Linked DNA regions of Homo sapiens: region 1 is linked to region 2. A link means that fine-mapping ties the variant in region 2 to the plasma level of a protein whose gene starts in the linked region. Region 2 holds a variant in brackets. A gene starts in the other region. All regions are shown on their reverse strands.

Region 1 (2,927 bases), not on the chromosome of region 2:
AAGTCAGTTGATAGAAATATATTTTATAGACACATTTATTTGCTCTATCATCAGCTCTTCTTCCTCTTGTCTTTAGAAAGAGATTGTTTAATTATTTGTGTAATTCAAAATGACATTAAGTTGATGTAGCAGCTCATAACACACTCTAAGTTTGTCAGGGTAGCAGATTGCACTGTGAGGAAAGCTTATCTGCCTCCGGGCTGGTGCCCTAATCTGTGTCTCATGTTCATTAGCAATGTGTCTGAATTAGTAGCCATCCATGGGCTGGAGAGTGAACTAATTTTTGCAACACTGACATTAATGGCTAACATTTATTGAATACTAAAATGAGCCAAGCACTGGGTCTAAGAATTTTGCATGCATTCAATTATTTGAGCCTCACAACAACCCTACAAGTTAGGCGGCGTTACTATGCCTGTTGTATAGATTAGGAAATAGACACAAAAAGATCAAATAACTTGCTTTAGAATTCACAAATATTAAGGGGCAGAACTGGGATTAGTATCCAGGCAATGTGGCTCTAGACCCAGTTTTCTTCATCAAGACTCTCTGCCACCTTAAATAACTTTCTATTCTTTTATCTTATTACAGAAAAATCCATGTACAGTTGACTTAAAGGCAAATCATATTTTATATTGGGCTCAACAAAATGATGTTCAAAATACTAACATTTAGTTACAAATAAAGGTATTTGTTTATATTTTGGTAAATATACCAACAGGAACTAGTGAGCTCACTTAAGTAGCCATTAGATTGGAAAAAAGTCAACATGTCTTTGGACTATTGATCTTATTATTATATTGTGAAAACAATAAATTTATGCCACTCTGAGATTTCTTGAAGAAAAACTTGTTTTTATGGGAAAAAATAATCTAAATATTCTTGCAATCTTTAAACACCTCAAGGAAAAGCTGGTATTTGGAGAAATGATTGTAACTATTAAATATATTCTAAAATCCTAGGCTATGTTTTTCTAAATTAATGCAATTAGAAGGATCTAAATTCTAACTATAGTTTACCCTTCCAAGCATTTTATAGATCAGGACAACGTAAGTAACTTATGAAATGAGTTAATGCTCATCAGTAGAAATATCAACACAGATGAGGTTTCAAAGTATGAATAAGATCAGATTTTCCTGATTGCAGTTTGTTAAGTGAAGGGATAGAAGAAAACTGAAGTCTGAGTTACTGTGGATCTTGATAATGCTAATAACAAAAAAAAAGAGAAAGTTGCTATCAAATCATCAATTTTAGTTGATGATTTCTAGAGCATGGTAACGCATTTCCTATTTTATAAAACAAAGCACCAAATATTACACAGTTTTGCTCAGTAGAGAAGATTTTCAAAAGTAATAAAACCATACTTGGGTGGCAAGCATCTTAAAAACGTAAACAACTATGATATAAAGCTATTTGCTGTCAAGAACATGAAAGCCAAATTACCTGGTATCTTTCACCTTCAGAATACCTGGCTTCTTGTTGCAGGATTAGAAGTCTCTGGGCATTTTGCTGAAATTTAAAGTTTGTTAGAGTTCCCAATGGCCAATCAGCACTGGCTCACTCAGCGCTAGCAAACAATTTGTTACAAGCGCCCACAGATAACCATAGGGGGTGAAGTAATTTTAATCTAAAAATGTGTTTGTGGTAGAAAGCTACTATCAAATGTTCCAGAAAGTGGGATAAACAGAAAATATAAATACCTCAGTTTGGACATCATGTTGTCAGATAATCAAAATTGATTTCAGAACTGCTAATTAGGACTGACTGAATACCTAACAAGTTTAGAAATGGAAAACATTTTTGCTATCCTTTTATGTAGAAAGTTTATGATGTCAATTTTATCTAAGTGAAATTCAGCAACATTTAACAAAAATGTTTTAGGTGCCTACTGTGTGACAGGCATTGGCGAAACTGCAGTGAACAAAACAAGACAGAAAAAAATCCCTGTCTTCCTGGAGCTTAGAATCCAATAAGGGAGACAGATAATAAACAAGATAAATGAGTTAAATAGATTAGATAGTGACATATACTAAGTCTAAGGAGAAAAAGTATTGTTGGGGAGTAACAAGCATTGGGGGTGGGGACACTGGGTTGAAATTTTAGATAGGAAGTCCTGGGAAGGCCTCAATGAGAAGGCAACTTTTGAGTAAAGACCTTGTTATGGTTTCAATGTACGTGTCCCTCCAAAATTCCCATGTTAGAACTTAAACCCAAGGTGACAGTATTGAGAGATGGGCTCTTTAGAAGGTGATTAAGTCATGAAGGCAGACCCCAGTATGAATGGGATTAATGACCTTATAAAAGGGCAAGAAGAAACTAGCTAGTCCCTTTTTGCCCTTCTGCTTGTCTGCAGTGTGAAGACACAGCATTTGTCCCCTCTGGAGATGCAGTAGCAAGGTGCCAAATTGGAAGAAGAGATAGACAGCCCTCGTCAGGCAATGAACATGCTGGCCTCTTCATTGCGGAATTCCCAGCCTCCAGAACTGTGTGAAATAAATTTCTGTTTTTTATAAATTACCCAGTCTGTGGTATTCTGTAGTAGCAGCATGAACAGACTCAGATAAGCCTGCAGCCATATGACTGTCTATGGGAAGACCATTCCAGGAAGAAGAAATAAGAAAAATAGTGCCCCAGAAATAAAAGCCTTGTGACTTGTTCCAGGAACAGAGAAGAGGCCACTTTGGTTGGAGGCCTGAGCAAGGGGAATAGCAACAAATGAGGTCAGAAGGGTATTAGATGGCAGATGGTATAGGACCTGTAGGTCATTGCAATGCTTTTGACATTGCTATGAGTGAGAAGAAAAGTCCTTGGAGGTTTTAAGCACAGGCATGATTGAGGAGTGACTGAAGTAGGAAAAAGGCAGAGAGAATGGCTAGGAAGCTCTTGTAATAATCCCAGCCAGAGATGATGGAGGCTTGAACCTGAGT
Region 2 (2,927 bases):
ATACCACCAACATAATGTGTCGCTGTTGATGCTGACCTTGGCCACAGGGCTGAGGTAGTGTTTCTCAACTTTATCCGCTGTGTGGTTGCTTTCCTCACCTTTCCATACGCATTCCTCAGCAGAACAGCACTCTGCATAGCTCGCACTTGCAGGGTGAGATGTGATCCTCCACTTCCTGGAGGGAGAACAGAATGTAAATTATACATTAAATGGAATGATTCTGCACAGGGCTTGCATCTCTTCTTCTTCATTTATTTATTTATTCAACCATTAATTGATAACAATATGGACACATGGATATTGGTCCTAAGCACTGGGTTATGATCCAATCCTGTGATAGTTTTTGGTTGCTCAAATTGCTGTGTATTTGGCAATCTGGGCTCCTTCAATTGGCTCTTGTGTCCCTTGGACATAACCCCCATCGTCGTCAGGTGGGTTTTTGGGGTGCTTTGTTTGTTTTAAATGCTGTCTTACTTACTGACACTACAAGATGCCCCAGGCTCAGCCTCCTTTTTCTGCCTCAGCCCTAGAATCACTTATTTCTGCAAGGGGCTTGGGCTTCCTTTGTTGGAGAATAGTATTAGAAGCCATGATCTGGGCAGGAGGTGTGCTAATTGCTACTGGGGTGTTATTGCTTCTGGGCTCTCTCAGCTGACAGAGAAAGGAAACATATTGCCACCAATATACACTTTATTACATTGTATGTCCTTAATGACTACCAAATTTCCTCCAGGCTGAGGAGAATGGCCTGGGATGAGGTACAAAGTACATGAGCCAATAAACTAGTAACTGAGAAATATTTCTACTAAACAGAACCCACATATAGCTTTGTAAAGCAACTGTAGAGGTCCTCAGAAGTTTCATGACTTGAAATATTTAAGATTGAACCTTTGCATAAGTGACGTGTCCTAAGAATGATTCATCTTATGAATTTTGTCCCAAAGCTAACTGTTACCTGCTGACTTCCACAGCTCTCTGTGCAAATGGGAGCTAGGTTATAATCCAGCTATCTTTTAATGGTTTCTTTTTTTATGCTTTCTTCATCCATGTGGTTGTTAATGAATGAAAGTCAGACTTCAGGAGTATATCTTGTATTCTGGACAGCTGGATCAAGTGCCTGGTGCATTCTAAATAATCAATAGACATTAGGTGAATAAATGAGTGCATAAGTAAATGAATTGCTGACTGAGTTATCATAACTAAACCAAGTAGGATATGTCATGAATAGAGTACTCTAGTTAATGGTACTTGGAAGTATGTCTGTCACTTATAAATACCCTCAGAAATTTATGCACCATGGTTTTAGAAGGCCTGGAGAAGAT[A/C]CCAAATTATGATTTTCCAGCCTTGGAGCTCACTTAGGGGCATATGAAAAACAGATGACATTGCCATGCCAGTGCCACCTTTCTCCAGATTGCTCCCAGGGCCACTCTTTCAGAGCCTGAGGGCTCTGATGATGGGAAAGCACTGGCTTCTCATCCTCCCCATGCTGTCTTCCAAAGCTGTTCCTATTCTCTCATGACTGATGATGCATGCAGTCACGTTAACTTTTCCCATCATAATTCCTTGGTTCATATTGCAAATGCCAACATCCAATTTATATTTTATTTAAGAACCAAAGTAGTTTTGCAAGATTATTTTATTTTCAAAGGCAATGGAATCACTTGTTTTCCCATGTTTTCAAAGTTATCTTAAGTAGTGTAATGGATCGACTCACACAGTGCCTTTCATCCTATTCCAGGTAACAGTGGATGGCAAATTATTTACCAGGGCTTTTAAACTGGGATCCACAGTGAAGCAGCTTAACATGCGGTTCATTCATCTTCCTCAAATTCTATCACTAGCCCCCTCCTAGCCAGTGTGGCTCTTTCTGCTTCTTAGCACTAGGCATTGAAAGTTTTCTTAGGCAGATGAAGGAGTGATGGGCTCTTTGTGGATGCCTGCAGTTCCAGCAGGCAGCTTTATGGCTTGTGCTCTGAGACGCTTGGATGGATTCTTTCTCTTTCCTCTGGGCCCACTGGTTAACCGTATAATACATTGCTTTATTCCCTGTCCCAGCAGTCAAAATGTGGGGCTTTGGAGAAAAGCCAATCGTGCATGCTCTTATGACACTAATCCAAATATGTGTTTATTCAAGGGTGCAGTTGTGCAACCTTTGTGCCCTGAGGCTCCCTGGACAATTGTGGCAGGCTAAAAATGGTCTGATTGGCCTGCATTTCTCACTGGAGAGCTAGGCTACAGAGTTCGTTTTGCTCATTACCGGCCTCTCTCCCAACCCAGTCTGCAGCCCTCCTTAGGGCTGGGTTGCAGCTGCAAACAGTGTTTTTGTCTACAGTGCCCTCTCTGAAAATAGTTGTCTTTGTTGTGACTGAGATATTTAGGTCTTTTTTCAGCAGCACCCTTATTTGATTGACTGATGGGCCTGTAAGTTATTTTTGAATCTGGGTTATTTCTATTTCTGATATAAGTTGCTAGAGGCCGCATAATTGCTCAACTCATCCTTTTTATTTGATAATCTATACTAAAAAAGTAAACTGTTTTGTTGTAAAGTCTACATTTTTTTTTCAGAAATATTGATGGTCAGAACCCAACACTGGGCGTTTCCCCCAAACATAAATTATGTTGCTTAGAGGTACAACATGTCAACATCTTTGTGTCTAGTGCTTTCACAAGAATCTTTTTTAGGATTCTTTTTCTGGAGGAAAAAATAAATAAAAACATATCAAATTCTCTTGTGTAAATCATCTGCGAGGCCCACAAAAATGAAGGGATGCTGTCTGTCAATGAAGATATTATCTGGAGGAATTTACATTAATAATTACATTGAATGTGGTGAATTGCTTGTCTCAATGACGAGAGTTTGATAAATTGAATTATTCACACTACACGGAAATTTAATTAGAGATGGTATCTTAGGCATAATCTATAAA

Direction of the effects. Alleles are on the strand shown, and positions count from the first base shown. The strength of an association depends on the size of the effect and on how common the allele is.
With allele A in place of C in region 2, the plasma level of the protein whose gene starts at base 1,489 in region 1 is higher (weak association).

The links. A credible set is the group of variants that fine-mapping cannot tell apart. PIP is the posterior inclusion probability: the model's chance that the variant is causal. Protein levels are from antibody-based Olink assays in UK Biobank. Linkage for the fine-mapping came from a reference panel and not from the study's own genotypes, which makes the PIPs less certain.
Region 1: MEPE starts here. The variant in region 2 is the best candidate, but not a certain one, in a credible set for the plasma level of the MEPE protein (UK Biobank, PIP 0.75).

Annotation. Positions count from the first base shown.
Region 1 is chr4:87,831,531-87,834,457 of GRCh38, reverse strand. It overlaps MEPE (matrix extracellular phosphoglycoprotein), which reads right to left and starts at 1,489. Exons shown (of 4, transcript NM_020203.6): 1 at 1,444-1,489.
Region 2 is chr13:22,450,708-22,453,634 of GRCh38, reverse strand. LOC107984599 (a long non-coding RNA gene) reads right to left here. Exons shown (of 3, transcript XR_001749779.2): 2 at 1-175. Among named protein-coding and RNA genes, the nearest start is that of LINC00540, 240 kb to the right of the region's middle. The variant A/C (reference allele first, on the strand shown) is at 1,323.